2 separate regions of the Homo sapiens genome follow, and region 2 is reported to be linked to region 1. Evidence: microRNA targets listed by miRTarBase, many of them from high-throughput screens and not tested one by one. Region 1 holds a microRNA gene; the other region holds the end of a gene's coding sequence.
Evidence for each region. The annotated mature microRNA hsa-miR-6511a-5p reads CAGGCAGAAGUGGGGCUGACAGG and lies in region 1 at 1,999-2,021, opposite strand. An mRNA with a match to its seed (bases 2 to 7 or 8) in the 3' UTR can be bound and repressed. Matches are read on the target gene's strand: a 7mer-m8 pairs with bases 2 to 8, a 7mer-A1 pairs with bases 2 to 7 and ends in A, and an 8mer does both.

Region 2: miRTarBase lists SNX17 as a target of hsa-miR-6511a-5p. Seed matches in the 3' UTR shown: 7mer-A1 at 3,683-3,689.

What each region holds. Positions count from the first base shown.
Region 1 is chr16:14,922,790-14,927,961 of GRCh38, reverse strand. It overlaps MIR6511A1 (microRNA 6511a-1), which reads right to left and starts at 2,025; the gene lies at 1,959-2,025. It overlaps LOC100288162 (a long non-coding RNA gene), which reads left to right and starts at 679. Exons shown (of 3, transcript NR_103772.1): 1 at 679-914; 2 at 1,135-1,941; 3 at 2,180-2,212. It also overlaps the pseudogene PKD1P3-NPIPA1 and the pseudogene PKD1P3.
Region 2 is chr2:27,375,811-27,380,810 of GRCh38, reverse strand. It overlaps SNX17 (sorting nexin 17), which reads right to left. Exons shown (of 15, transcript NM_014748.4): 11 at 4,840-4,965; 12 at 4,628-4,705; 13 at 4,424-4,498; 14 at 4,291-4,332; 15 at 3,276-4,205. The coding sequence ends at 4,092. ZNF513 (zinc finger protein 513) reads left to right here and starts at 77. Exons shown (of 4, transcript NM_144631.6): 1 at 77-339; 2 at 563-718; 3 at 1,757-2,344; 4 at 2,440-3,576. The coding sequence starts at 285. The coding sequence ends at 3,266. RefSeq lists a silencer at 105-324 and enhancers at 1,465-2,335, 2,950-3,109.

The DNA of each region.
Region 1 (5,172 bases):
GAGGAGAGGGGAGAGGAGAGAAGGGGGAGAGGAGAGGGGAGGGGAGAGAAGGGGGAGAGGAGAGGGGAGGGGAGAGAAGGGGGGAGGGGAGAGAAGGGGGAGGGGAGAGGGGAGAGGGGAGAGAAGGGGGAGGGGAGAGGGGAGGGGGAGAGGTGAGGGGAAGGTCTAGGGGAGGGGAGGAGGGGAAGGGCTAGGGGAGGGGAGGGGCTGGGGGAGGAGGCAGGGGCTAGGGGAGGGGGGAGGGACTAGGGGAGGGAAGGGGGAGGGGAGGGGTTAGGGGAGGGAAGGGGAGGGGAGGGGCTAGGGGAGGGAAGGGGGAGGGGAGGGGAGAGTGGAGGGCACAGAGCAGCATCTTCTTAGTCCCTCCCCACATCTGGGCCCCTCTTTACACCCTGGGTCCCCCGAGAGGCACCCTGCGTTCACACAGGACAGCAGAATGGCTGAGGCTACTGAAGCAGGTCAGAGACCGAGGAACGCCATGGCAGGAAGGAGCCCAGGCTGGAGGCTCAGCTCCTCGGCCAAGCTGCCCGTCTGCCCTGGGGGGCTGAACCCAGTACCCTGGCAGGCATGCGGGGCGGGGAGAGCATGTGGGGCCATCCTACCATGCACTGGGCCAGCGCAGCAGCGATCTGCTGGATGTCATCCACAGTGTGGACCCTCAGGGACACCAGAGTCTCCGTGATGTTCTTGCGTATCTGGGCTCGGCGCTGCCGCTCGTGCTTGGGCTCTGCCGCCACGTCCAGGGCCCGCTCGTACTGGGGCAGGCAGGGGGCACAGCAAGCTGTCAGCAGGGCAGGAGGCCGGCAGGAGGCCAGCAGATGCCCACGACTCCCGGGGTGCAGTTACGTGCTAGATGCTGTGTGATGTGGGCACTGACCCGCAACACTGAGCTGTTTCTTCATGGGCAAAACAGGGTAAGCACATGGGCCCTCCTGGGCGGGGGCTGCATTGTGGAAAGCAGACGCCGGAGAGGGCCCGGTGGGTGTGGCTGCTGGGAGCGGAACGTCGGGGTGCTGCTTCAGGGTCACTGGGATTTATCTCTGGGGCCCGGGATGAGCCCTCCGCAAAGCTCCAGGCAGGGGAACAGGTCTTGGTCCCCAGCACGCATGCAGCAGATGTGAGGTCCCCTCCCAGGCTGCACTCACCTCGTTCAGCACAGTGACCAGGGCCAGCGAGTACTCGATGACGTGCTGGGGATCGGCCTGCCGCAGCAGCCCCGGGAGCACACTAGCGGTGAGCCCGTGCAGCCAGACTGTGAGCCCCATTGCGCTGCCGTTGGGCTCTGGGAGGGTGATGGCCAGAGACCTACGAGCAGAGGGGGGTGGTGAGCAGGTGGCAGTCTCGGGGGCGCCCTCCCACGGCCTGGCTCACCTGTTGAGGGCGACCACAGCGGCTCCCAGCTGGTCCTGCACCACCACGGCCAGGCCCACCTCGAAGTGTGGCCTGAAACCCGGGGGCAGCACGGCTCCGTAGCCGGAGAGGCTGCCCTTGTAGACACAGAACTCCTCGCAGTGGCCCTGGCGACAGCGCTGCAGCAGCAGGGCGTACACCAGCGGGGCGCCAGCATCCTCCGCGTCATGCCAGCCTGAGGGACGGTCCCCACGGCATCACGGGAGGGCTCCGTGACCTCACAGAGTCGGGGGATCCCGCTGCTCCCCCTACGCAGGCCTGCACTCACCCATGCATTCGAAGTGCACCTTGGTGGTGAGAGCGTGCACAGCGCCCAGTGGGAAGAGGCGGCAAGAGCCCCCCAGCGGCGGGCGGTTGGGGGACAGGGGGATGGAGGCGCAGCCCTCCTCCTCGCCAGAGCGGCCCAGCACCGTCAGCGTGAAGGTGTATCCCTCGCCGTCCCGCAGCACGCCCCGCCGCAGCACCAGTCACATGCCTGCGCTGCCCGTGGATGTGGTGGTCTCATCCAGCACCAGCGTCTTGTTGCTGAACGTACGTGCAGCCCACCGCTGCAGGCAGAAGGGATGGTGAGGGGGCGCAACCCTCTGCCCTGTCAGCCCCACTTCTGCCTGCAGGCCCCGTCCCCTCGGCCATGGGACCCATCCCCAACCCGCCCACACCCCGCTCAACACTCACCCCTCGCTTGGAGCCGCTGCTGCAATTGAGGCAGCGGCCCTCCAGGTACACGTAGGAGCTGCGGCTCACTTCGTACACGGCCTGTGCCTTGCAGGACACACACTCCAAGGACACAATGGGCACCCGGCCACTGCGGATCAGCACCTGGCGTGGGAGTGGGGTTACCTCCAACACAGGTCTATTTGGCCTGCTGGAAGGTCTGGGGGACCCGTGGAGGATGCTGCTCCCAAACTCCAGGTTTCCCAGGGGCCTGGCCACTGCCGGTGAGCTCACCCCCTCCCAGGATACTCATCCGGTTTGCCACCTTCCAACCTGGGCGGCGGAAGGGCATACACAGGGCAGAGGACACTGGGGTGTGTGTTCTGGTGTACTGGAGCCAGCTGGACCCTGACAGGAGGCAGGCAATGCTCACTGAGGGCCCCTGGGGGGATGCGTGTGGGAACAGACGTATGTGGGGGTGTGAGGACCGCAGTTGCCACGTAGGCCTGACTCACAGACTCCTGCAGCCCTTAGCCAGGGCCTGGGTCAGGAGGCTGAGCCGGGATGGAACCTGCTCCCACACCCTCCCCTCAGACGACCCCTCTGGGCAGACCCCCAATCAGGCCAGCTGAGGAAAGCAGGGACTGGGGAACAGACACCCACTCTGGGGTACCAGCAGGCCCCAGTCAGGGAGGCGCACACACTCACAGAGGGCAGGGAGGCGCACACGCTCACAGGCACCTGCTGCGTCCGGTTCTCGAAGGCATTAGATGCCAGCAAGGTCAGGACGTACTCACCTGTGGGGACAGGCCCAAGTGGGGCAGCCGCGGCACCCCCACCTGCTCCCCACCCGCTCGGCAGAAGCCCCCCGCCTGAGGAGCCCGGGGTGAACGGCTGCGCCTGCGGCCCAGCCTTAAGGGTCCCAGGCTCCCAAGCCACGTGCGGGACGGAGCACAGGTGCAGCAGCACTGAGGGCTGCCTGGTGAGGACGGCACCGCCTCCAAGTGCAGCTGCACTCGGGGCAGCAGAGCAGCAAGAGCCAGGCCGCGGTGGGGGGCAGTTCAGGGGGCCCAGCTTCCCTGTCCACTCCTCCCACGCCTGGCCCCTCCCTCACCCCAGTAGGGGCCTAAGCCATCAGCCCAGGTGAGGTCACAGTGAGGGCTGTTGGGGAGGAAGCGGGGCAGCTTGACTGGGGGACTGGGGGGGCCCCGTGCTCAGAGCCTGAAAGGCAGTGGCCCCCTCACCCCCTCATCCCTCACCTGGGGCAGCGTAGGTGTGGGTGACATTGTGCTCCACCAGCACCTGGGCCACCGAGGGGTCTGGAACCGGGAAGGACTCGTTGTATGGAGGCTGGAACTGGTGGAGGGCCTGCTCCCCATCCCCAAAGGTCCACCTGCCGGGGCGGTGGGAGGCAGTGAGTGAACCGGGACAGGGGTGCGCAGTGGCGGGGCACAGGTGCGCGGTGGCGGGGCAGGGGGTGCTTGGGACCCAGCCGAGGCTCCACTCTGCAGTCACGCCCCGGGCCTCCATTCAGGGCCCACCCGGCTGTGCTGAGGCCTCTCCCGGCTCCCGTGCAGCCTCAGGGCTCCTGTGCACCCAGTACCTCCCAACAGACAGGGAAACCGAGGCTCAGAAAAGCAACCCCCTGATGTGGGGTCCCTCGGCTGAGGCTGGAGCCGGGACAAGAGCCTGGTGCCCGGACAAGAGCCTGGTGCCCACCCCAAACCGGCCCCTGAGTCACTCACAGGAAGGCCACCTCCACGGCCGAGTCCACCAGCACGCCCGCCGTCAGTGCCAGCGTGGCATTGGGGGACAGCACGGCTGGCACTGTAGAGACCCGCAGGCCCTGCATCCTGTTCATCCGCTCCACGGTGATGTTGTAGTTCACGGTGACGTTGCTCACGTGGTTGGAGGCCGTCAGCTGCAGGGACAGGCATCAGTGGGCCCAGGTGGCAGGTGAGAGGCCTGCCCTGCTTGGCGTCCCTCCCTCCACTCACCACAGCCATGGCAGCGTCCTCGGGCAGCATGAAGCAGAGCAGAAGGCAGAGGTGAAGGTGGAGCCCGCCCCCGCCCCGCCCCATCCCCTCCCCTCCCCACTCCCGCCCACCTACTGAGAGCTTGAAGACCGCCGCGCTCTGATAAATGACATTGAAGACCACGTTCTGGAAGGTCAGGGACTGCTTGTCGTTGATGGTCCACCAGAAGACCATGTCCGAGCCGGCCTCCACCACGGGGCTGTACCTCTGCGGGGGGACTGGTGTCAGCCTGGGCTCTGTGGAGGACTCTGCCCTTAGCCTGTCGCCTCCTGGACACACCTCCCGTCGGGCTGGAGAGTCCCACGTGGGGCACAGAGGAGAGGAGGTGCCCGGGGCTCTGCATGCCATGAGAGCCAAGCCCGGGCTGGGACACTGACTGTCCGGCTCTCCAGCCAGCCATGTAGTACTACTAATGCCTCAACCTCTCTGTGCCTCAGTTTCCCCATCTGTAAAGCAAACCTAGTACCAGCTACAAAGAGTCCACCTCTCTCTGAGTCTTCTCAGACCCTCCCGGGGCTCCTGCCCCAGCTCCTCAGCCAGAGAGCTCGGAGCAGTGAGGGGAGGCACACGGGCCTCACAGGGACAGCACCTACACTGGCTTACAGAACCCAGGACAGGCTGCACAGGTCACGCCATTTCTCATGGCCCCTCCCAAGGCCCCTGGTGAAGGGGCAGGTACCCGCAAGATGGAACAGCCCTGTCCCCCATGTACCCAGCATGGTGGCACCGCGGGCAGCCCGCAGTTTCCCATCAGGGGTTCGGACTCCACCTCAAAAGCCACTTGCTTTAGCCAGGCGAGAACACAGCAGAGGGCGTGAGAGACTCACGGGGACTCGTGTGAGGTCAGGGAGCGGAGTTTTAAATTCATTTCGTGAAATGAGACGGTGGAATGAGTTAGCGGAGCCGCTGTCAGAGCCGTGACTTTCCAGGAATTTAAAGCCCACCAGGTAGCCTGAGGAGCCAGCCAGCAGGACCTGCCCGGGGCCGACGTCCCCAGTAACTGGGCTGCTGCCCTCACTGGGAAGCCAGGCCTCACGCCCTGTGTGAGCACCCTGTCTGCAGGCACCTGCCT
Region 2 (5,000 bases), not on the chromosome of region 1:
TACGCGTCCCGTGCGTCTCTGCGGCGGCGGAAGCGGAAGCGAGTACGGAGGTACCAGCTGGTCTCCGTAGGGGGGTAGGGGGCTCCATGAATGGAAGCGGCGGCGGCGGCGGGAGCGGCCTGAGCTGGGCGCCGGGGCCAGGGCCGGGGGCTGCCCAGGGCCCGCGCCGCTGCATGGGGGCGGCCCGCGGGCCCTGAGAGGAAGGGCAGACAGGCGGGCCGAGATAGGAGGGGCGGGGTCGGGCGGCCGCAGGCCGGAGGCGCGTCGGGCTGGAGCCGGTCACGATGCCCCGAAGGAAGCAAAGCCACCCGCAGCCCGTGAAATGCGAGGGGGTCAAAGGTCAGGGGTCAGGGGCCTTGAGGGGAGAGGAGCGGGGGTGGGGTCAGTGGAGTGGGCTCAGGTCAGGGTGGAGGGGGACTCCTGAGGGATGAAGTGGGCGATCCAGACTCCTAGCTTCCCACCGAGGCACTAAGGGAATCAGAGTGGGTCAGCGAGTACGGGAAGTGTGGTCCACGAGGGCTGGTTCCTGAGGGAGAATCCACAAGCCCCCTCCCCTCTTCAGTGGATACTGAAGACTCCCTCGACGAAGGACCCGGGGCCCTGGTATTGGAGAGTGATTTGCTACTAGGCCAGGATCTGGAGTTTGAGGAGGAAGAGGAAGAGGAGGAAGGCGACGGCAACAGTGACCAGCTCATGGGCTTCGAGAGAGACTCGGAAGGTGGGTTTTCGGGTCTTGGTTAAGGATTAGCGGCCGCTGGAGACCCCAGCCCTTCAGGAGGCAGGTTAGGTGAACAGAACACCATTTCCTGCCACAACCGAGGGCTGGTTTAGTTTACATTTGAGCTAGATGACTTCATTTGTTTAATGGTCCAATCACTTCCATCACTTTGTTGAGGTGAAGTTCTGAGGCCTGGTCAAAGGTGATAGGAATAGGAGGGTGGGTGAATCACATGGAGCAACTGATTAAAAGTAAATGCCCTGTCTCTCTCCCTAGCCCATTCCTTATGTGTATTTACTTTTAAGAGAGGTTCAGGGAAGCAAACTCTCTGTAAATCATTCAACCCAGTATTTAGGTCTAATCTAACTCCCTTTCACCTGCAGCGTAAGCTCCTTTTGTATTGAGAGGTTTTAGTTTCTGTCTTTATCCTTCCATGTCCCTCTTCCCTGTGATCTTAGCATCACCCTACCCTAATTTGCTGCACTACCCATCCACTTATGCAAGATGTTTTTTGAAAGTCATTGAGGGGATCCATGTAAATATCTGTTCTTTAGGCAGGCAAGTGGTATTACATGCATTACTTTCATTGTCTCCACTTCCCTCCAAATTTTGCCTCAGAGATAGGTTTTATTTTATATCAGCTCCTTACTAAAAGGGGCCTTAGCAATAGAGCTTAGAAAAAGGTCTTGGGGGCTCTCTCCCTTTCGTATTTTTACTTTCTTGTCTCAAGAATTAATTTCATTATGGATTCATTTCAGTCTGTGATCCACTGTGAGCCCTTGATCCTTGACCATTGAGGGAAACTAGATACAGGTCAATTCTACCATCACTAGATTAGTCCAGTGTAAGAGGTAGACAATTCATGTTGAATTTTCTGGAATTACTGCAGGGGAGACCTTGATTCCTAGGAGGGAACTAAAGGGATCATCAAAGCTAAGGGTGGAGCCAAGCAAGTGGGGAGACCATAAGTGAAAAGGGGAGAGTTTGGAGCCTGATCCTACCCTATGCTGATGTCTCTTCTTATGTCTATTTCACCAGGAGACTCTCTGGGGGCCAGGCCTGGGCTTCCCTATGGGCTGAGCGACGATGAGTCTGGGGGCGGCCGGGCACTAAGTGCGGAGAGTGAAGTTGAGGAGCCAGCCAGGGGTCCAGGGGAGGCCAGGGGTGAGAGGCCAGGCCCAGCCTGCCAGCTGTGTGGGGGGCCGACAGGTGAGGGGCCGTGTTGTGGGGCAGGAGGGCCGGGTGGGGGGCCCCTGCTGCCCCCACGGCTACTGTACTCATGCCGCCTCTGCACCTTCGTGTCCCACTACTCGAGCCACCTGAAGCGGCACATGCAGACACACAGCGGAGAGAAGCCGTTCCGCTGTGGCCGCTGCCCCTACGCCTCAGCCCAGCTCGTCAACCTGACACGACATACCCGCACCCACACTGGCGAGAAGCCCTACCGCTGTCCCCACTGCCCCTTTGCCTGCAGCAGCCTGGGCAACCTGAGGCGGCATCAGCGTACCCACGCAGGGCCCCCCACTCCTCCCTGCCCGACCTGTGGCTTCCGCTGCTGTACTCCACGACCAGCCCGGCCTCCCAGTCCCACAGAGCAGGAGGGGGCGGTGCCCCGGCGACCTGAAGGTAAGACACACCAGGGACCAAAGATCTTGGGACATGGGTGGCTGACCCTAGGAATGCTTGGATTGGATTCATAGCCCAGGTCTTTGTCCCCACAGATGCTCTGCTCCTTCCAGATTTGAGCCTCCATGTGCCACCAGGTGGTGCCAGTTTCCTGCCAGACTGTGGGCAGCTGCGGGGTGAAGGGGAGGGCCTCTGCGGGACTGGATCAGAACCACTGCCAGAGCTGCTATTCCCTTGGACCTGCCGGGGCTGTGGACAAGAGCTGGAGGAGGGTGAGGGTAGTCGGCTGGGAGCTGCCATGTGTGGGCGCTGCATGCGAGGAGAGGCTGGAGGGGGTGCCAGTGGGGGGCCCCAGGGCCCCAGTGACAAAGGCTTTGCCTGTAGCCTCTGCCCCTTTGCCACTCACTATCCCAACCACCTGGCCCGGCACATGAAGACACACAGTGGTGAGAAGCCCTTCCGCTGCGCCCGCTGTCCTTATGCCTCTGCTCATCTGGATAACCTGAAACGGCACCAGCGCGTCCATACAGGAGAGAAGCCCTACAAGTGCCCCCTCTGCCCTTATGCCTGTGGCAATCTGGCCAACCTCAAGCGTCATGGTCGCATCCACTCTGGTGACAAACCTTTTCGGTGTAGCCTTTGCAACTACAGCTGCAACCAGAGCATGAACCTCAAACGTCACATGCTGCGGCACACAGGCGAGAAGCCCTTCCGCTGTGCCACCTGCGCCTATACCACGGGCCACTGGGACAACTACAAGCGCCACCAGAAGGTGCATGGCCACGGTGGGGCAGGAGGGCCTGGTCTCTCTGCCTCTGAGGGCTGGGCCCCACCTCATAGCCCACCCTCTGTTTTGAGCTCTCGGGGCCCACCAGCCCTGGGGACTGCTGGCAGCCGGGCTGTCCACACAGACTCATCCTGAACTAGGTCCTTCTTCCCCATGTTTTATACAGACGGACCAGAAGCCACCTTTTTCTCCCCCGCTGGCCAGGGGCTCCACACAGACTAACGTAGGCACTATAAGGACCAGCCCAACCCCATGGGCGGGGGGGCCCATATGGACCAGGGGACCTTGCCTTGACTGAGGCACTTCACGAGCTCAGTGAGAAGGGCCCTGTATTCACCTCCACTGCCCCCAGGGGCTGTGGACAAACCGGCTGGGGGACTGCCCAGCCTCCCACCTGTTTATTTAACTTATTTCAGTGCTTTATAATAAAGGAAACACTAACAAAGCCATGTCTATGCTGAATTGGCAATGGCAGGCAATTTGGCCTTACCCTTAGCATAGTAGTCCATGCTGTGATGGGGGAAGCAGGGGCAGTGAGAGGGAACCAGAGGTAGGCAGCAGTCAGGCTGAGTTTAATGATGGGGAACTGGGCCAGACCAAACACAGACCTCTGCCCATCCCCTTGGCCTTTGGCCCATGGCTCCAAGAGGCCAGAAGCGGCCCAGAGGGAGATATGGTTCCTCCCCAAGGCAGGCAGCCATGGTCCCTTAGACTTTGTGCAAAATACTAAATGCTAATTTGGCATCGAGGGCCAGCTCTGAAAAGAGAAGGGGCAATCCTCTGTGCAGCCAGCCCAGGGGACAAGGAAAGGTAGGATACGAGGCCCCTGGCCAAGAGAAAAGGGGTAGGTAGGAAAGAAGAAGGAAAAGACCCCTCCGCCCCTAGCATGGGGGACACAGGCACAGGGCAAGTTTCTGTAAATTCCTCTGGGGTAGAGGGCAGACATCCAAGCAGTGGAGATTACAGATCCTCATCTCCAATGCCCTCGAAGGCGAAATTGCCGTGGACATCACTGGCACTGGCATCTGTGCTGGGACTGCCAATTCCCCGCAAGCTCACGGCACTCAGCTTACTCTGTAACAAAGGCAGGGTGGGGTCAGAGATCTTGGGCGTGCAAGATCCCCCAACAAACAGCAACCTCACCAACGCTGGAACTCACTGAGAGTTTGACCATAGACTCCCGGGTGGCATCAGGTGACTCCTGGGGAAGAAGAGGCAGAGGTGTCAGAAACTCACTAGGAGAGGTGAGGCAGGGCTGAGAGCCAGGGTTCTGACCAGGAGGTAATACTTACAAGCAGTGGTGGGGACTTCACTGCTTGCTGGCTGTCTGAGCGTCTCAGAGTACCCCCCACCCGCCGGCGCAGCATCTGGGGACAGACACAAGGTGCCGGTGAGGGCAGGATCACTTCCCCTCCCTCTCAAGACAAGCCTCACATCTAGGACAAAAGGCAAGGGGAGCACACCTGCTCACTGCTCAGTCCACACTTGCTGCCTACCTTCCTGATACTGCCGCCAGATTTCTTCACCATCAGTTCATCAACCATGGACTGCAAGCAGATGCTCATCATGATAGCCTGAGGGCAAGAAGAGTGTCCAGCTTGATGAGAGTGGTCACTCTGAGCCCAGCACCACTAATGCCTCCCATATTGAGTACTGGAAACTCTACACTTTAAGGTGCTCCAGAGGAGGGCTGAGGGTAGGTTCACACCTGGGGGCTAGTGATGGTGACCCACTGTAGCCGGTCCTTGCTCATGAGGTATTCAAAAGCCAGTTCCAGGCGCACCTCACCCCGGCCCCGGCCTGGGCTGCTCGTGCTTCCACTGGGCAATGGTACCTGGGAGAGGAAGGGGAATTCGGTTGAGTTCACTC